Regions from separate parts of the Homo sapiens genome. Here region 1 is linked to region 2. The links come from fine-mapping of genetic effects on gene expression. A gene starts in region 2. The other region holds a variant in brackets. All regions are shown on one strand. Distances are from middle to middle.

Region 1 (10,493 bases), 33 kb before region 2:
GCTGTGTCATCTTTGGCAAGTTACTTAACCTCCCTGTGCCTCAGTTTCCCCATGTGAAAATGAGAATAATAATAGTAATCTGCCTCAAAGATTGTGGGGATTAATTGTGGGGATTAATTTAGTGAGTCAGGTACAGTGATTAGGGTAGCACCAGGCACCTATTCAGCACTAAGTGTGAATAACTCACACCCTCTCAGTGAGGTCTTTCAAGGGCATCTGAAATAGCAGCCCCGCTCCCAGCACCTCCCATCTCCCTTCCCTTCATTTTCCACGTAGACTTACCACCACCTGACAGACTATACATCCCATGTATTCATTATCCCTCCCACAAGAATGTATATTCCATGGGGCATTTTTGTCTATCATTCATTGCTGTATCCGCAGTGACTAGAATTACTACCTGGTACATAATAGGCCCTTGTAATAAAGAAGGAATATATGAAACTTACTAACTGTGTAGACTTAGGCAAGTTACATAACTCCCCACATGCCTTAGTTTACTCATCTGAGAAATGGAGATGATGCCCACACCCTCACGTTGATGTGAAGATTAAATGAGGCAACATTTGTAAATATGCCCACTCCGGTCCTTGGTACATGGTCGACCTGAGAGGACCAGTTTCTGCCTGATGGAGGAAGGGCCTGAAATGGTTAATCCCTGACTCTCCTCCCCCATGCAAAGCTGGTCCGGACTGCAGGGCCACTGGCAGCTATCCAGGTGGAGGCTAAATGTCAGAGGTGTGTGCCTGCAGAGCTGCCCTGGTCCTGATGCAGTCTTGACCCAGGCAGCTGGAGCCCCTCGCCACCCCCTCCTGCTGCCTGGGCCTGGAGCATTTGGGAGTGCAGGAGCAGAGTGGTGGGAACCTCCGCAGGCCTGGGTCCCACGCCACATCCTGGCCTTGGGGGAGGTGGGCCCAAGGCCTGGACTTGCTTCCCAGCTATTCCCAGGCGGCCCTCTCTCCTGCTGGCCCAGCTGCACTGCCTGAGCCGGAGGGCCACAGGGGTAGGTCTGTCTGTCAGCATCACTTGTCCCCACTCACGATGAAGAAGACGCAGGCCTCAGCACAAGCACAGTCTGGACTCAGAGCCCCACTCTGTCAGCCCTGAAGCCCACCTGCCTCCCTCCCTGGGAGGGAGTGCGTGGAATGACAGTCACAGAGGACTCACCGGACCCCAGCGACTCCAGCCTGTGGCTTCCCAGATTTCTCCAATTTCTCGCAATGCCCCAGCTTTTCAGCAACTTCTCTGAGAGTCATGCCTCTCCATGACGGACCCAGAAAAAGATGAAAATAGATAGACACAGGCTTCAGTGTGAATGCTGAAGATGAAATAAATGCAGTCCAGCATTGCCCCATGGGCATCCACTCCACAACCATCTATGAACCCCCACTCTGGGCCAGACACTGTGCACTGTAGGATGCGGCAGTGAATAAAACACAGACCTGATTGTAAAAATCTCCCAGTCGGAAAGGGGGTACAAATGTGAGCAGGCCGGGGTAGTGGGCAGAAGTATCTTGGTGGAGCTGTACAGGGAATGATGAGAGTATGGATGAAGGGTCTCTAACTCAGCGTGGGGAAGGAGGGAGCATGAGAAATCTAGAAGGGTGGTACCAAGGTGCTTCTGGCCAGCAACAACTTGGGGGAGAACAGAGGAGCTAATAAATGGAGAAATGATATTTCCCACCAAGGGGCCGGCTCAGAACGGCTCTGGGGAGGGTGCCAGCTTCAACTCCCATCCTCCCAATCTTCAAGCACTTTTACCAGAAACTAAGCCCTCTGAGGGCAGGGACCAGGTTCAGTCTGCATCCCTAGAATGAGGACAGGCATATATGGCAGGCACTGAGTAGAAATGTCTGAGTGTGCCAATGAATAAACAAACCCCTGAAGGTAAGATCACTACTGACCCAGGGACATGTTGCTTTTTTGTTATCCCACAGACATTAACATAAATTTCTATTGCCCAATTTCCTCTTGGTAAGTGTAAGAACCCTCACAGGCTATAAACTCTCCAACTGGTGCCAAATGAGGTATCACTCAGCCTCCAACACAAGCCTCTTAAGAGGGAACCAACCATGGGGTTCTGTCCATCACCCTGAGTGCTGCCAGCCTCCCCATCGATGGTCACCACAGTCACACTCCTTTGGTACACCCTGGGAAAAGCCGCAAGAATCACACACCACTGAGGATAATGGCCAGAAAGTCACTGCCAATGTTTGTGGCTCAGTATTTACAGAAAAACAGGATCATTCTGTGCTTGCTACCCACAACCAGTCATAGGCGCATGTGCAGGCCCATCCACACACCCTGTGTGGAACACACAGCCCGCTCCCCAGGCCCCTGCCATCAACAAAAGTATACAAAGAAGAGATGCCAATTGGATTTATCTGTTTAAACAGCATCCCGTGAAGCTGGTCCCTGGGTGAATTATCCAAACAGTAACCATTCTTGCTTCTTTCTTAAAGAAAAACTGTAGAGAGCATAAATTCTCCTTGCATCTCTGCTATTCATTCATGCAGCCAATATTTAATAAGGACCTACTATGCGTTAGCCCCTGCTAGTGGAACTGTGCTATGGTTTGCATGTCTGTGTTCCCTCCAAAATGCATATGTTGAAACTTAATCTTTGTTGCAATAATACTAAGGGTGGGGCCTTTTGGGAAGTGATTAAGTCATGATGGCTCTACCTTCATGAATGGATTAGTGCATTATAAAAAGGCGGGAGGCAGAGGCGGGCAGATCACAAGGTCAGGAGATCAACACCATCCAGGCCAACATGGTGAAACCCCGTCTCTACCAAAAATACAAAAATTAGCCGGGCATGGTGGCACGCACCTGTAGTCCCAGCTACCCGGGAGGCTGAGGAAGGAGAATCACTTGAACCCGGGAGGCAGAGGCTGCAGTGAGCTGAGATCGCACCATTGCACTCCAGCCTGGCGACAGAGCAAGAATCCGTCTCAAAAAAAAAAAGACGGAGGGGGGTGGAGGGAATTAGCTTAGGCCCTTTTAGCCCTTCCATTCCTTCTGTCATGTAAGGACACAGTGTTCTTCCCCTCCAGAGGAAGGAAAGGAACACAGACATGCAAACTATAGCATAGTTCCACTGGCAAGGGCTAATGCATAGTAGGTCCTTATTAAATATTGGCTGCATGAATGAATAGCAAAAATGCAAGGAGTACCTATGCTCTTTACAGTTTTTCATTAAGAAGCAACAAAACACCACCTTAGGAGCAGAGGGCAGCCCTCACCAGACAACAACTCTGCTGGCACCTTGATCTTGCACTTCCCAAAGTCCAGAACCATGAGAAATGTTGTTTTGGTTTATAAATTACCCAGTGTGTGGAATATTGGCACAAATGGACTAAGACATACTAGAAATGCAAAACTGAACCAGTCAGGGCTTTGCATTCTGGAAGCTAATAGTCTAGCGAGAGTCAGACAGAACAGTGGTTTTCAAACATTGTGCTCAGTGCTTCATCAGGGACAGGCCTGTGGGAGCACAGGTGAGAGGGAACCCTACTACCTGAAATTGGTGGGGAGGAGGAGGCGTTAGAGAGACTTTGTAGGTGTGGTGATTTTTGGGCTGAGTCTCCAAGGACAGCGAGGCGTTCCCCAGGTATGAGCCTTCAGGTAGCAGGGAGGGCAGGAGTTAGAAGTGTGAGCGGCAGGGCAGGCAGAGCTTGGGCAGCTGGCAAGATGACCCAAGAAGTACTCCAGGGCTCAGACATGAAGGGACTATACCCCTTGAATTCTGAAACTGGGTTTGTGATTTTCCAGATTCCCCTTTGGTCCATTAAGAGAGTTCATTCTCAGACCAAGGGGGTCAAGGGGTATCACACTTCACACAAAGACAGAGACCCTGAAGAGTAATCCAGGCATGAGGACCCCAAGGAAAAGAGTCAGGGAGAATCCTCCAGCCACTGTTTCTGAAGCCCAGGCCCCTGCATCCTACCAGGCCCGGGGGCACCTCCATGAGCCCACACACACAGAGCCAAGGCGTGAGTGAGGGCCACCATTCCCTGGGGTGGTGAAGCACCATTCCACAAACCCAGACCCAATAATCAGACTCTGAAAAAGACTACCCCCGCCCCACTTCAGCTCCTGGATAGCTGTGCCTTCCCCTCTTGAGATGTCACACTCCCCACCTGTGTGCAAATGGACTCAACTCCTCCTTTCTCCGACATGATCTGCAGGACGCCCCTCATACAGCTGCTGGCATGCACAAGACGTTGAGAATGAAGGTACTACCATTTAAAGACCGCTTTACAGGCGAGAAACTGAGGCCCAAGAAGCAGGCTACTTGCCTCAGGACCCACAGCAAACTCATGCCACAGCCATGTCTAGAACCCAATTTTCGAATTCACAGCACAGAACTCTTCTCTCCCACTACAGAACAGTCGCAGACAAATTCTGCTTTGCTTCCTGGTTTCTCCTGAGTTTCTACTTAAGTGGAAACAACAACTACAAAAATGCAATATAAAAACAAAAATTAAAAATTCCAAAAATCTTAGCCAAGATTCATTCATGAATATTTCCCCTAAATATTGTGAGCCCTGCTAGGATCCAAGCTACACCGCCTCTCTCTTTAAATATTCTCAAATACTCCAGGAAACTGATTCCCAACTTCTCCTGATTTCCTCACCTCAGATTTTCTCTTTGAAGCTTGAAGGGTACTTAGAAACTTCTCTTTAAAAAGAGAAGGTGCTCCTGACAGTCATTCCAAGACATTTGGATTTGCCAAGTTGAAGTTACAGAAACCTGTGACTATGCATACTAATTATTATTATTTGCCTACCATTAGTATGCTTTTTCACATTTCACATCTGATTTTTTATGTACATTTTTCTTAATTTTTGTGTGCAAACAGTCCTAATATGAAGTGAAAAAAATCACTGGCAAAAGGAGAAAAGCAAACAAACTAGCCTGGTGTCCAGGGATTCAAGAATTTCAGGAGGATCGTGAGGCAAATTGGATATGTTCTCCAGGAAAGGGGAGCTATTGGGCATATCAGCTACACAACCGATCACCTGAGGATTCCACTGGAAATGAAAAAGAGAGAAAGAGAAGGAGTCGAGAGTCCCCCAAAACCCTAAGTGGCTTCTCCCCAGCTTTAGGACACCACAGGGATGCTCACCTTTTAAGAGACTTGCTTTCCTAGAATAGCCCCAGCCCCTCACTTTGGGATTGTGCTGTGAATGACAAAGTACTCATGGCAGGGAGCCCAGAGAGTTCCAGCAGGTAAGGAGAAGACCCTCGAAAGTAAAATAAAAAAAAAATCTGCTACTAACTGGCAGTTATTTGAACTAGTTATACCAGAGACCAGGAGCAGGCCGCACAATCGCTTCTTCCCCAGGGCTCTTCTCCTAAGCTGAGAAGATGCCAGCCGTGTGTTTATCATTTCTCCCCACTATCTTTTAAGGCAGCCACATCCCAAGCCAGCAGGCAGAAGCTGGACCAAGACACATGTCCAATGGGGAAGGAGGCCAGGTTCACTGCACTAGGCATGAAATACGCCTTATCTCATATTTGCCAACACACCTGCACCATGGGGACACATAAAATGTGAACCTCATTCCCATTTCCCATTAGAAATTAAGAGATTCACAAAGCCCAAATAATGTGTGCTGGGCCATTTAGCAATGATAGAGCAGGACTGGGTCTCCCTCCAATTCCATTCTACCCAAGAGGTACAAGGACCACTGCATGTAGTGTGCAGGCTGTGAACTGCAAGAGAATCCCACATCCAAGGAGATACATGAGCCCACCCTGCCTGCAGGGCTTGTACACCTGGGAAAGAGTACACTCAGTACACTCAGTACAGATATCGGGGTGCAGAAAGCCAGTCCCACCTATGCTCCCTTGACTCCCCC[C/G]ATTCCCACCTGCCCAATCACAGCCACGGTGGGAGCAGGGGAAGGACATATCTTATCCCTGGTACGATGGAGAGGGTGTGTGATCAGGTGACAGGGTGATTCTGTGAGTGAATGCACAGCCAGGCTCAGGAAAGTGCCCCCCAACACACACACACTGGCAGAGCTGGGCTACTTTACAGGAGTATGCTTAACTATGTTTCCTTCAAGAAACAAAGGCCCCCCACCAACCCCCCGACCTTGTGTTTTGTTTTGTTTTGTTTTGTTTTGTTTTGTTTTGTTTTGTTTTAAACAGTCTTGCTCTGTCACCCAGCTGGAGTGCAGTGGCGCAATCTCAGTTCGCTGCAACCTCCACCTCCCGGGTTCAAGCATTATCCTGCCTCAGCCTCCTGAGTAGCTGAAACTACAGGCGCACACCACCATGCCTGGCTAATTTTTGTATTTTTAGTAGAGAGAGCGTTTCCCCATGTCCGCCAGGCTGGTTTCAGACTCCTGACCTCAGGTGATCTTCCTGCCTTGGCCTCCCAAAGTGCTGAGATTACAGGCGTGAGCCACCGCACCCAGCCTGACAAAGACCCTTCTTAAATTCACATCCAGGCCCTGCATGGCTAAGCAGCCTCTCTGATCAGGCTCCTTCTTGGCAGCTGGCAGGTCAGCTACCTGGGCCCCTCTGAAGCCACCCCAGGTCACCTCTCATCATTCTCCTCCAGGAGTTAGACAGTTGGGATAACCTGGCTCTGGAGAGGAAGACTGGCAAGTCCCAAGAAAGTATTTGTGTCTCCCCCTGCTATTCTCATCCAGCTGGCCTTTCCCCATGGCCCTCACCCATGATAAATGCACCCTGGATGGGGAAAGAGGAACAGAAATTCCATGCTCTGGACCTTGCCTGGAGCTGGCTTCCCAACCATGCGACTTCCGCGGAACCTGCTCTTGCCGAGAAGGCACCAGTGGGTCCTCTCCAGCTCAAACATCTGCCTCCCTCAGCTTGTCCTGCCTGCAGGAGCTGGCCAGCTTCTCCTGCATGCTATGCTGATGCAAAGTTCTCTGTCCTGAATTGGCAGAACCACCTCTGTCAAGGATGTGGGGTTTGTTTTCTTAATTAACTGAAAATGCTAACATGGGAGCCCAGGAGCTGGCAGGGGCCTGGCCTTCAACCGCTGCTAGAAAAAAATCTTGCTTTGAAATCTGGATCTCTAACGCCCCACAGGGGATGTCAAAACAAACAGGGACACTTGATCCTGGAGCACAGGGCCTGGGGCAGGTTCAGGTTACAGGGCCAGAGATGGATTTAGCTACAGGATGCCACAGCAACCAACAGGTGACCAGATCCTGATTTCCCAAAATGGTACAGCTAGACCCCAAGATGCCCCCTGCTGGGGCACGGGCTCTAGGGGGATGGGGAGAGGTCATTGGGATTTATGCCAGCAATACTTCCTGAGTGCCTACTGCCCAGCAGGCACAGAACTGGGGGCGGGGGAGGCTGCAGAGATAGCCAAGTTCTATTGACTCCTGCGCTTGAGGAGATAAAATTAGGAACAAATTACTAATGTGTAGCACAGAAGGCCCCCAGAGCTGAAATATTTACTATCAAGACCTTTGCAGATAATGTTCACTGACTCCTAATGTACAAGACAGAAGAGGGTAGAGTGGAGTCTGGAGAAAAGACGACCAGAATGACCACCCAGGGCCCAGCTGAGGGACAGTAACCAGAGAGTGGAGATACAATGGAGCATCATTCAAAAGCAGAGATGACAGCAAGACCCAAAACCCCAGCAGGGGGAGGAGGGAAAGGAGGTGGAAGAGGATGGAGAGGCAGGGGTCCTCAGTCTCCTGCCTCCAGCCTCCAAGACTGGCAGGACATCCGATCCAGAAAGGATGCTGATTGCCCAGCCCCATCTAAGGGCCAAAGCACCAGGCTAGCATGATACAGCCCTGGATGCCCCCAGGGTGGTGAGGCACAAGTCACATGCACAGTTCTGTACACCAGGGATCATGCGATGGCCTTCTCACCTAACAGCTGGGCCTCAGGAAAGGTCAGAAGTTCTGAATGACCACAAAACATCCCTCTTTGGGAGGAAGTCACACAGTGTTCCAGGGAGGCCCCACACTTCCCCCTTCCCGGCACAAGTCGTCCCATCTGCAAAGGCCCAGAAAGGAGCAAGTTTGCTTGAGGTCAGAGATGCTATGTCAGAGCAGAGCACACCAATCTGAACTCAAGAGTCTTCGTTTTTCCTGACTTGCCTGTTCCTCTCTGAGTCTCTGGCCTAGGTCCATCCTGAGCTTGGAGACCAGCAGGTTGGAAGATTCAGAACCCCCAAGCTGCTTTGCCCCAACCTGAACTCCTCAGTTTTCTTCACCCCCCAGGAGAGGAGGATGTTGAACCATTTCCTCTTGGGACACCCATACTGCACATCTCCCTTCCTGCAGTAGAATCTGTCGATGTAGCCTTTCTTAATCTTTGGGCCTTTGAAGCACACAGTGTAGAGCCCAGTTTGAGAAACAAAGCATTGAAAGTTAAAAACTATCATTTTAGGAAACCACTCGGTGCCAACTTGCACAGAAACACAAACCTGGGGACTAAAATCGCATGCCAATAGTAGGTTATATGGTGGTCATTCAGATGATTCAGAATAAATGCCTCCAATTTTTACAGTATTATTATTAAAATGAAAACAAAGAAACATTTCTCAAGGAAAAGCACATTCTCAAGCAGAGTCTCAGACCTTGGAGAAAACAATCACACAATGTTCCCAGGGGTCTCTGGGGCCCAGTGTGAAGGGCTCTGGCTGGGGGTGAGGACCCAGGCTATGGAGTTAGGCTGCCCTGGACCCTTCCCTGTCCCAGCTGTGTCCTGAGTGCCCTCTACAATGGCTGTCACACAGTAGGCCAGCAATTCAACTTTGTTGAACACACAAATGAATAAATGGTTAGACGACTTAAGAGGTTCATCCTGGCTTTGCCATTTACCAGCCCTGCATCTTTAAGGAAAGGTCCTTAATCTCTGAGCCTTAGTTTCTTAATCTTTGAAATCTACAAAATTAGTCACAAGTCAATAAACTACTGCAAGAATTAAAGGAGATGCAAAGCCTTTAGCAGAGTGATTGGTGCATTCAAGGTACAGAATAAATGGTAACTATTATTGTTACTTTTCAAAAATGGCTTTAATCTCACATCCAAAATATCTTTCCAGCTCTGCACACCTTCCCAATTCCACCATGCCATATTATATTTTGGTAAATCCCCAGCACAAAGCCTGGCACAAGTAGGAACACAGAAAACATCTGTTGAAGCATAATTTAGCAGAAAGTGTCTCTGATTTGGAAACCCTCGGGTGAGTGCCAGGGGCTGAGGCTTCTAGCATTTCCTGCTTCCTCCATGGGAGGCCACCTCTTTGTAACAGACCCCAGCCCTCCAAACTGTACCTGAGCATTCAAGGCCAGGAAGCTCACCTGTGTCCATGCCACAGGAAATGGGACGGGGGCATTTGCTCTGCAGAGGGTGGGGATGCTGGCTGAGCCCATCCCCCTGCTGCATAGACTTCTCCTCCCATTCCTTCTCACTCCAGCTCTGGGGAGCGTGGGCCTCCCCCCAGGCAGCGTTCCCAGGCTTCAGCAGTAACAGGCCCTCCATTCTTCCCTGCCCTTGGCAGACCTGCCTCCTCCCACTACGACACTGTCCGCTGCTGCTCATGGGCAGCTGCCTCAATCCAAGGAGACAACGCAGATTTCTTGGGGCCCAGGCCTGGTCTGTCCCCTGACCCTATAGGAAGAAGAGGAATTGGTCCAAGTCTCCTCCTGAGATACACTCACAGGGTCACTCATTTCACCCTCAGGCTGCAAATGTCACTGGTCTCTGGCATCTTCACAAACAGCACTCACTGACCACACTTTGTTTTTCCCAAATGAGGGAGAAATCTGACATCTGCCCCTCCCGGATCTTCACTCCTTGGGCCAGGCTCCAGCTATGTTCAGATGTCAACCCCCAGCTCCCTGCCTCAAGGTTGACAACCACCAGGATAAGGTGGGGGGCTATCCCCAAGTTCAAGACTCGCTACCCACTGGGGATCCCAGTCCCCACCTCTGTCTCCTCCTTCTCACATTTGCCCATCAGATACCACTGGCAAGAGTCACCAGAACTCAACCCAAAATCTGCAATCCACAATCCAAGGAAGAGGATGTAACGCGGCTTTCTTTCACTTACCAAGTTTATCCAGCTATTTTCCAACTTTCTTTTTAGGAATCCTGAGCTCAGTCCTCAAGAATTATCTTCTGATGTCCCAGAGCTGGGTGCTGGGAGCCCAGGGCCACAGCAGGGGGCTGCAGACAGGGAGTCCTTCTGTGGGCATGGATTCCTGGGGTGGGGTGTGCTTGATTTGAAGCAGTGCCCCCTCCTCTGGAGGCTTCAGTACTAAAATCCAGCCCAGGAGTGTCCCAACCACAGCCCAGCAAGGTATCTAGCAAGGGAGGCAGGGCCACTGTCAGGAGCAGAATGTGTGGCTCTCTTTCTTAAAGGGACAGCCTGCCCCAAGAGCCCGAGGTGGGTGGAAATGCTAGAAAGGAAGGAGCAAGGGAGGATAAGCTAGCATCCTCCAGGGAAAAACTCTGAACACACACCAGTCTGTGACTCGGCA
Region 2 (10,493 bases):
AGGGAGGTATTTTATTATCATCCCCACTTTTCAGATGCGAAAACTGAGAATCAGAAAGGTGAAATAATTTGCAAGCTCTTTTAATAGGTAAGTGTTCCAGGAATCATACATAGGTTTATCTGATTCTAGAACCCATATTCTTAACAACCATGCAGTAATGACCTTCCCTAAGCTACTATACTTGCTCTGTTCATGTCTGGGATCCAGAGCAGGAGCCAGCAAACCTTTCCTGTGAAATGCTAGATGGTAAATGTTTTCAGCTTTGTAGGCCATGCAGTCTCTGTCACATCTACTCAACTCTGCCATTGCAGCACGAAAGCAGCCATAGGCAAAGCACAAATGAACAGAGATGGCTGTGTTCCAATAAAACTTTATCTATAAAACAAGATGACAAGCTGGGTTTCACTGTTGAAATTGACAACTTCTAATCTATGGTATCTTGTTCATTTGTTCATCTACCCAATGTTTATTGAGCACTTACCTTGTAGCTGGCACTCTCCTAGGCTCCAGGGATACAGGGAGAACCATACGAAGTCTGCACCCTCATAGGGCTTAAATCCTAGCAAAGTCTTGGCTGTTTCTTTTTCCCATGCCTGGTATCCTGGGTCCTAACTTTGGTGCTTTTCACTCCTCTTAGACCAGTGATTCTCAGCTTAGACTTCAGATCACCTGGGAAGCTTACAGAACTGTGGACGCCTAGGTTCCATTCCCAAGGAGTCTAATTAAATTGATCTGGGGTGGGCCCAAGCATTGATACTTTTACAAGCTCCCCCAAGTGGTTCTAATGTGCAGCCAGGGTTGAGACCCACTGCTTGGGGAACAGTTTGTTTTCTGTTTATTCCACTTACTTAAGGTGTGAAATATGGTAAGTTTTTTAAGTCCTCAGAATTTGGGCTGTGAAATGTGGTTAATATCAATCTCATATGATTGTCAACGATGTTTAAATGAGACAATGTACCTTTCAAATGATACAATGTTATATAAATTTAAAATACTGCTGTCATTGTGACATCATTATTAGATTTTAATGTTAGGTACTGCCTCAATGATTTCTGTCCTCAGTTTGACCTTGATTCTCAGGACAGTATTTGAGCTTTTTAAACAAGCTCTATGGAGAGCTCACTAAATAGCCCAAATTCATGGGTGAGTGAGCTAGTGGCCTTTCCTTTATTCCAATAGAGGGTCACATGGGGCTGCCATTTGCTTGGCATGGGGAGCACTGTTCTGTGCCCCACTTTTGTATAAAGGGTCTCCATCTCCAGGCTGAGATATCTGACCTCCAAGCACAGTTGTTAATCCTTGAATAAGTGGCTTATTTACTTTGACCTGTGGACAAATGTCTAAACCCATGTATTTTCACGGACTTAGAACTGGAGAGGGGAATGGCATTAACATTTTACTGAGCAGTTTGCTAGCTTCTTCCCTTATATCATTCCATTTCATTTTCAGAACAACCCTGGGGAATGAGAATAGTTATTGTTCTCATTTAACAGATAAAGAAGACTCAGAGAGGTTAGCAAGCTTGTGACCTGGTGGTGCCAGAACTCAAATCTCTGTCTGCTTGATTCTAAAGCTCTTCCTTGGAACCATAGGATGTACCACAAATAATTCAGCTCCTCTTTGGCCAGGATTGAAAGAGACATCAAACTGCCTAAAGTTCATTTTTTTTTTACAGGTTTTTTTTTTTTTTTTTTTTTTGGAGGGGGACCCCAGAAAGAAACCCATAACACCTATTAATAACCATAGTCTGATAAGTCTTGGCCAGTGCTAGCATAACGCTGCACAGGTTCCAAGAACAGGCACTTACTTCCTCCCCCCACAGCATCTTGACTGTGCAGTTTTAGAACCTCATAATGAAACAAAAAACAAACCAAAAAATGTGGAGAGAGTTGGAGAAATAGATGCTGCCAAGAGTGAGGAATTCACTGACCCCCGCTCTGGGCCATCTCAAGAGAAGTTGACCACTGGTTGAGCCTCTTAAAAGCTTAAAAGTCATCCCAGGCCATGGTTAAAGAGAGAGCTTGAACAAAACAAAAACAAATGTGATCTTCAAAATCTTAAATGTCAACTTGAAGGATAACTTACAAGCTTTGAGATGGGCCAAGAGGACCTGCAGCTGCTCTCTAACATCAGATGTTCCTTTGTTCCTTTGGAGTAGTCACTCCCTTGGATAATGTATCAATCAGGGTTCAGGGGGCAGCCTCCCACCCCATACCCACTGGAGATGTTTGCAATGACTAAAGCTTTCATTCTTTACAACCCATCAGATTCCCCCATTACTCTGACCTGAGCACCCTTGACAAGGAGTGGCTGCCTACCCGCTCTCTGACTCAGGCTTGTCCTTCAAGATCCAATTGGTCCTTGACCCTCCTGCCCTACCCCCACCTCCCTACCTTTCCCCTCCCCACCATACTTATACAACCTGCTCTTCTGTCCTTCTCCCTCCCTAAAGAGCACAAACACAAGAGTGATTTCTAGGCCAGACATCCAGGATCCCTGGTTTCTTCTCCCACACTTCAGGATAATGGACCAGGGATGCTCATGGAATATCTTCATTGGTCACCTTTTCTAGAGGAAGGAAGTAAGGATGATCAGAGCCCTAGAAACTCCACCCACTAGCCTTCAATCATGGAAAATATGTAGCTAGATTTGGGGAGAGGTTCTTTCCAAGCAATACTGGCTTGTGATGGCTGAAAAACTGAAAAATAAAAATACAGCACTCCCTTTATGAAGGGTCTTATAACATTCTGAGCTCTGTTCTTAGTTCTTGTGCATAAATGTTTTCATAATGACCTGGGGAGGGAAATACTATCCTTATTTTACAGATGAGGAAGCTGAAGCTCAGAAGGAATAAGTCATGTAGCCCAGGTTACTAATTCGTATTTAGGTCACAGTTCTCTCTCTCCAGGCAGCTGATCAGAAATCTGCACTCTTTCCATTGTTGTCGGGCTGCCTCTGAAGTCTAGGGCTGAATGACACAGGATCCTTGACAGAGTCTCTGGCTGTTGAGATCTAGAGGGTCATCCGCTATCAAAGCCAAGGATATCCTTCAACTTGTTCTTTCTGCCAGCTGTGTTTGCCCTCTGGACCTTCAAGGATGTCTTGGAATGCATCCCATCTACTTAATCTAATCTCAAAGATGACCAAAGAGCTGGCCAGAAGATTGAACTGATAGAATGAGCCATGAGAAGGCTTCAATGTCAGCCTAGGCATCCATGGCCTGGGAATTCATCCCGGCCATAGTGAAATGTCTCCTAGTACAAGCCCAGAAGCATCAGGACTCCACTGATCCCACATGCAGCACTCCCAGAAACCCCACATGTAGAAAGAGTTGAAAACCCAGTTCTTGCCCCTCACCTGTCCCTGAGGAGTTGTATGCTGGGATAAGAGTATTTCTGGGAATCCTGTTCCGAGGGGTCCCTTCTGTCCCTGGGTAGTCTTCTATGTTTAAATAATGGAAATGAATGAGAACATTTAAACTTGTTACTTCCATTGGCTCTAGTAAAATCAAATAAGAAAGCCTCATCTTTCATTATCTCTATGCTTTCTCTACTGCCTGTACTTACCCTTTATCTTCATTCTTTACACCTGGATCCAAGGCTCTTTAGTAATGGGGAGTTTAATCTGTTTTGCATCAAAAACTTTGGAGACAGTCGGGAAAGAAGACTGGGGAGAGAACATGTTCTCACAGCAAGCAGTAGTATTTCAACTTCCTCCACGCTCACCAAAAACAAAATCATTTACAGGCCTTCCTATTGGTCTTGCCTGCACAGCCTCCGCCTTCTTGAGCCCCTGACTCTCTAAGTTCTAATGCCCAGGAGAATGTTCTCTCCTCTTTTTGTCCTGATGGGGGCACGAGTATTCCCTCAGCATCCGAGGCGCTGGAGGAAAAGCTCTGAAAACTCAGCTGGGAGTTAGGAGCCAGAGTTTGCAACTACCAGGGAGCAAGACAATAATAGCACAGTTGTTTGCATAAAGGAAGAAATGGGGGTTAGATGGAGTTCCCAGCACAGATGAAGAAATAGACCATTTATCCTCCCATGTCTAAGGCCATGGCCATCACCACACAGTCATGTATGTGTAAAAACACATAGGCATGTGCATCTCATGGGGACCAGTCACTCCTGTTTACATGCACCCTTGTTTACATTGCCTATGGGATGATTTCCTCCTCCTTCATTACACTTCAGTTGACAACGTACTCCTGAAGTTAAATGAGTCTGTTTCTGACATTGCTGCCTGCTCCATCTTTTATGGAGCTTCCCTGGGGTTCAATTTATATAATTTCTAAAATCCTTCCTGAATCTTAACTTCCTGTGGGTCTGTTTTTACATCCAGATTTCCTCCCTGTCCCTTCATTTTCTCATTTTTCTAGGACAGAGGGAGAGTCCAGTAATCTTCCTCCCACCCAGACATTGTAGGTTGGCTCTACTGCAAAATACAAAACCAGAGACCTGGCTAGCTCAAAGCTGAAAATTCAGTCTGTCTGTGGTCACTCGTTTGTGGAACCCAGCTATTGACAGGCAGTGCCTGGCACTGTGCTACTCAGGGATGATGGATCGATACAGCCTCACTGCTGCTTTTTTCCCCTACTCTCCGTGGAGCACACTTTCCGCCCTAGGCCCTAGGGAAAATCCATCCCCCGCTTCAGCTGGCTTTGCAAAGAAACTCAGGAAACTAACACCAAACTCAGAAGGGGGAAAACACAAGACTTTGAACTTTTTAAAGATGGGAAGCTGCTTTCATTCCCACGTGGGCATCAAGGGAAAACCTATGGGGACTCTTTTCCGGAGAGGTGTGATTTTCCTCTAACCCTCCGAGAAACGTTCCAAATCCACTCCAAAACTGTGGAGAAGTGGCCGAGGCAGAGAGAGAAGAGTTAAATCAAGCCCAGATCTCAGCAATCTGTGTTCAATTTTGATAAAAATCTCCCTCTCCCCCACCGCCCCCCTTCCTCCACCCCACAGCTCAGACACGTCTCTTTATGTTAGGAGCTTGCATCTTGTTTGGGGCACCACACGCGGCACTCCTGGAGAACCTGGCACGTACCTCACCGTGGCCATGTGGCAGAACCAACCATCCCACTCCCAAGCTACGGCTGGACACAGGGCCACAGCGTCCTGGCCATCACCACCACCTCCCCCTCTTCCTTCTCATCCTCTTCACAAAATTACCTGCCGCCAGACCAAGTCCCTCATTCCCCGGTTAAGTCAGAGTCCCGACGCCTGGTAAAGTCAGGGCATGAGGTTGGTTTGCGACCGCAGGTGCTGAGAGCCCCAGAGTCCGGGGACCCCTTTCCTGAGATGCTCCTTCCCCCGCCCAGGGTCCCACTGCCACTGAGAACAAGAACCTTACGGCTGCCCTGCCCACTGGCCAGAGGCCAGGCCTGCAAGTGGGAGCTGGGGGCTTGTGAAGACTTCAGCCCAGCCAAGTGAAGGTTCAAGCCGAACCCGGAAAAGCCACCACCAAAAAGTTGTCAGTTTTGCGGGGTATCTTCTGTGTTTGTCCACTTGTGACAACCAGGGGTCAGGTTTCAAAGCCGCAAAAAACATTTTTAAAAAGTTTTCCAAAGACATTTCCTATGTCCAGATGTGCCAGTACAGACACACGCAATCACACTCATACACACACACAACTCACACACACACAGGCCCTGGGAGCCCACTCCGGGGTCGGCGGCTCCTGCAAACACTTTGGAGAAACAAAACCGCCAGCCTGCGGAGCTGCTGCCTCCCCAAGCCCCGCGGGGCATGCTAAAGAAAGCAGAGGGAGAGAAGTGTGGGAGCCCAGCGGAGAGGGCTCCCCGCGGCCCGGGCCCCAAGACGGGGAGCGCCAGGGCCGGCCGCACTTACTCCGAGGACCCCAGGGCGCCCGCGCTCCCGCAGCCCGAGGTACGGCGCCGCCGCCCGCGCTCCGCTCGCTGCTGCGTGCTCCGCGCTATCCCCGGGAAGCCGCGGCTGCCGCCCCTCCAGGCCCGGCCTCGCGCCCGTCCGCCCGCCCCGCTCTGACGTCAGGCGTCTTGGAGCGGGATATTTATGGCAAGGTTACTCTGAATTTTCCCTAGGTAGACTTCTGATTGCAGTTTCTTGGGATTTGTAATTTTCACACTTTCAGACCGAACGCAGGCGGGGGGAGAGCGCCACCGGCAGGGCGAGGCGTACAATGAGGGTAGCTGTTCCCCACTTTGGCAGGGAGCGTTCTCAGGGCCCCTTCTGTTTTGGAAACATGGAAGGGTCAAAGAGGCAAAAGTGGCCACCTGGGCAGCGGGTTTCTCCCCGGCTCCTCCTCTGGGCTACGGGCAAATGGCCTGGTCTGAGGCCGGCTCGGAGGTGAAGGTCCCGGTGCCAAGGAATCCCCTGTCCCTCCCCAAAGTGTCCCTGCACTGGACAGTGTGTCCCAAGGGGTGCTGGGCAAGACAGGAGCGAAATCAGGCACAACAGAACAGCTAATTAGGAGTCCTGGTCCACGCCCTAACAACTTTTCCATTTCTTTTTTGGGAGTGTATATATATTTTTTTAAGTTTATTTTTATTAAATTATGTTCCACACTCCCTGCCTCTGTATAGCTTTTCCAATTCAGTGCCAGTCAATTCATCTTACTTCATTGCTTGTATGCATAGTTTGAGCAGTTTACAATAGCTCTTATTCATACTTTTAAAATTTCCTTTTAGTTTTTTTTTTTCTTTTTTTTTTAAATGTGATTGTGGTCTGTCTCCTTGACTGAACTAGAGATTGCTTTGGTCAAGAGCAATTGTCCTCTCTGGGATTGGCAACACCCTCACGGGGAGTATTTGATCTTCTCTGTTTCCTATTTTCCCCAGCTCCCTCTGCAAGCAAATGGTGCCCCCACTGGGTGATGACCTGTATACAGTTTTCTGGGTGTTCAGTGGTTGTTCTGTGTTAGTGGTTGTCTGTTTCTCCACCTCACCAAAGGGGCTTAGGGAAATGGCTTGGTTTAAGGGCCACCCTTCCAGAGAAAAAAAGAGAATGTAATGCATGATCTTCCAGAGGAAAAAAAAAAAAAAAAGAGAATGTAATGTGTTATCCTTCATGGTTCCCAAGGATTGGAGAATGAAATGAACTTAAAATGATACACGTGAGATGCAAAATACTTATATGGTTAGACAACATAAGTGTTTAGGTATTCATCTCACCATGAATGGGAGGGGGCACGGATAATTGCAAATCATCATTAAAACACAACTATAGTGAACTTTCCATTAGCCCAAACTGGTAGAGGCGGGGTTGTGTTTTAACCACAGTTACAGTGCAGCAGGGACTCAAGGACTTGGAATGTGTTTACCTCTTTGGCAGCAGCTGGTTAGAGCTGATTGCCAGAAGGAGCTGTCTTAGGGCTGGGCCTCTCGGTAGAGGCCACGCTGTTTTGACCCAAGCCACCGAGGGCCCTGCAGCAGGGAGCTGCTGTTTGGTCACTGTGGGATTGCTCTCCCTGGCATAATACCCCACTTTTACCTCCTTCCATTCCCTCTCTCATATCAAGGCTCCACTGGCAAGGTGAGCTCTGTTCTTCAGCAGACCCTGCAAATAGGTTTCCAGAAGCCATTGACAAACCCATTCTCCCTTGCCTTTCTCAACTAAAGAAGTTAGAAATCTACAATATTCACCATCCCAGACTCCCTGGTAGCTCACAATTGCTATGAGACCAAGTTCTGACCAGTGAGATTGTAATACAGAAGACAGAGGATGCCTTCCACAAACTCTCTTTAAGAGAAGATCAGATTTGGCCAGGCGCGGTGGCTCACGCCTGTATTCCCAGCACTTTGGGAGACCGAGGCGGGCGGACCACGAGGTCAGGAGATCGAGACCATCCTGGCTAACACGGTTAAACCCCGTCTCCACTAAAAAATACAAAAAATTAGCCAGGCGTGGTGGTGGGCGCCTGTAGTCCCAGCTACTTCGGAGGCTGAGGCAGGAGAATGGCGTGAACCTAGGAGGCGGAGCTTGCAGTGAGCCGAGATTGCGCCACTGCACTCCAGCCTGGGCGACAGAGCGAGACTCCGTCTCAAAAAAATAAATAAATAAATAAATAAATAAATAAATAAATAAATAAATAAAAACACAAAAAAAGATAGGGCCAGAGACTCAGAGGTGGCAGGTTGGGGACATCATGAGGACAGAAACAGGGGAAGTGAGGCTGAGGAGCAAGCATTCTAGGTCTGGGAGAGGGGAGTCTCTCCATCCTTGCCCAAGTGTTTTGGAGGCAGGGTCTCTCTCTGTCACCTAGGCTGGAGTGCAGTGGCACGATGATAGCTCACTACAGCTTCGAACTCCTGGGCTCAAGGGATTTTCCCACCTCAGCCTTCCCAGTAGCTGGGACTACAGGTGCATGCCACTAGGCCCTGCTAACCTTTTTTTTTTTTTTTTTTTTTTTTTTTTTTGTAGCGATGTGGTCTTGCTATGTTTCCCAAGCTAATCTCAAATTCCTGGTCTCAAGCAATTCTCTCAACTCGAGAGGCCGAAGCGCTGGGATTACAGGTGTGAGCCATTGCGCCTGGCCCCCAAGCATTCTTAATTGGGTTCTATTGGGATGAGGAGCAAGTGAAATTCATAAAATACGTGGCTGTCAGTGCTGAGGAGCTGTTTTTGAGGTTGGCAAGCCCTGAAGAGTCCATGAAGTAGTAGGGCCCACTCGAAGATCATCTGATTCACTCCCTACCCCCAGCCCTATCACTCACAGGGTCCTAATGTGGGAGTCTCTCCTATTCTCAAGATTCCCAAGAAAGGGGTTTCATCCTTCTTCACCTGCATATTCTAGGAATGTTCCCGGAACATACAGTGAGGCCCTCTGTAGCACACTACTCATCTGGAAAATTGTACCTGCTTGATGAAAGATTCTCAAATAGCACATTATGGTTGACCTGGCTTCCAAAGCTCACTATATACTTCCAAGGCCCAGCCTATCATGATAAGAAGCAGGCTTCACAAAAGTCACTTGCTCACTCTCCAGGGGTAGAGATCCTAGTCTAGTACAGCATGGACCACAATAGCACTCCATAAAGACTTTCTGAAGAATAAATGAAGGCCCCATGAATATGTCATCTAATCAATATGTGACTCTCCGCAAATAACATATACCTTTCTCTGATTTACTATTGTGGACTATAGCAAGTGTTTGAACCAAAGACCTTGGTTAAATCCCAGCCCTGCCTCTCACTGCTGTGTGACCTCAGCATGGCAGGAAACTTTCTCAAGCATAGTTTTTGTGATGGTTAACTTCATGTGTCAACTTGGCTGTGCCACAGTGCCCAGATAGTTGATCAAGCATTATTCTGGATACTTCTGTGAAGGTGGTTTTGGATGAGATTAATATTTAAATTGGTGGACTTTGAGTAAAGCTGAGTACCCTCCATAATGTAGGTAGGCCTCATGCAATCAACTGAAATTCTTAATAGAACAAAGACTGACCCCCACCCCGCAAGAGGGAACTGTGCCAGCAGACTGCCTCAGGACTCCAACTGCAATGCTTCCCTGGGTCTCCAGCCTGCTGGCCTACCCCTGCTGGTCTACCCTCCAGATTTTAGACTACCAGGCCTCCATAATTACATAAGCCAATTCTTTAAAATCAGTCTCTCTCTCTCTCAATATTCATATACTACATCCTGTTGGTTGTTTCTCTGAATCTCCTATTAGTAGGAGAATCCTAAAAAATACAGTGTTCTTCAACAACAACATGGGATGAAAATTATTCCACCCTAAAGTATTGTTGTAAAGTTCAAATGAAGCAAAATAAATTGAAAGCCTCTACCTCAATAAGTTCTTCTGAAACTTGGAAGGAAAAGGATGCCTCAAAATTTCAAAGTCTTTTTCATCCTACCACTTATGTGGTCAGTATCAATCTGCTGGCTCTTAGACTCTGTTCAGGGAGGTGTCAAACTTTGTTATCAGGTGTGCTGTTAATGCCTAGAAGGCAGAAGCAACTTGTCTTGAACTGGACCCCATCCAGCACAGACACATCACACTTCAGGTATTTTGATCATGAGCCTGATCCTGGGGCCTATCCTGCTTCTGTCACTTCTAGTAAGGGATACAACCTCCACTGTTCAGGACAAGACTCCTGGACTTCTATTATCTCACGGTAACTTCCAAGGATACAGCTAAAGAGAGAAAAAGCCCATGGCTACCACAATTTCTTCCTGAAAGTACATACTTATCAATAGAACATGAACTGCATGTCCCAACAACTTGAAGATATTTTAGGTCCTCATTGTCATGTGGTAGAAATGACCCCAGAATATGGCATGAGAAAAACCTGGTTTCTAATTCCAGCTCTGACTCTTGTAAGTAAGAGCATCATTTCACTTCTCTGCAAAATTCAGACTAATAGAAGGACCAATCCCATGGTGCGAGAGTAAGGATTAAATTGCAGAATATTTGTACCTTACAGATGACCACTGTTCTTATATGCCTTTTCTTCTCTTTGCCCTCTTTCCTACCTCTATACCCACTCCCTCCACCCAACACACACAGCTCCTC

Evidence for each region. PIP is the estimated chance that this variant, and not a neighbour inherited with it, causes the effect.
Region 1: its variant is fine-mapped to the expression of DAAM2 in whole blood (TOPMed, PIP above 0.99).

What each region holds. Positions count from the first base shown.
Region 1 is chr6:39,821,044-39,831,536 of GRCh38, reverse strand. The region is part of intron 1 of DAAM2 (dishevelled associated activator of morphogenesis 2); the gene reads right to left. Among named protein-coding and RNA genes, the nearest start is that of DAAM2, 34 kb to the right of the region's middle. RefSeq lists an enhancer at 6,817-7,377. The variant C/G (reference allele first, on the strand shown) is at 5,867.
Region 2 is chr6:39,787,825-39,798,317 of GRCh38, reverse strand. It overlaps DAAM2 (dishevelled associated activator of morphogenesis 2), which reads right to left and starts at 5,942. Exons shown (of 25, transcript NM_001201427.2): 1 at 5,853-5,942.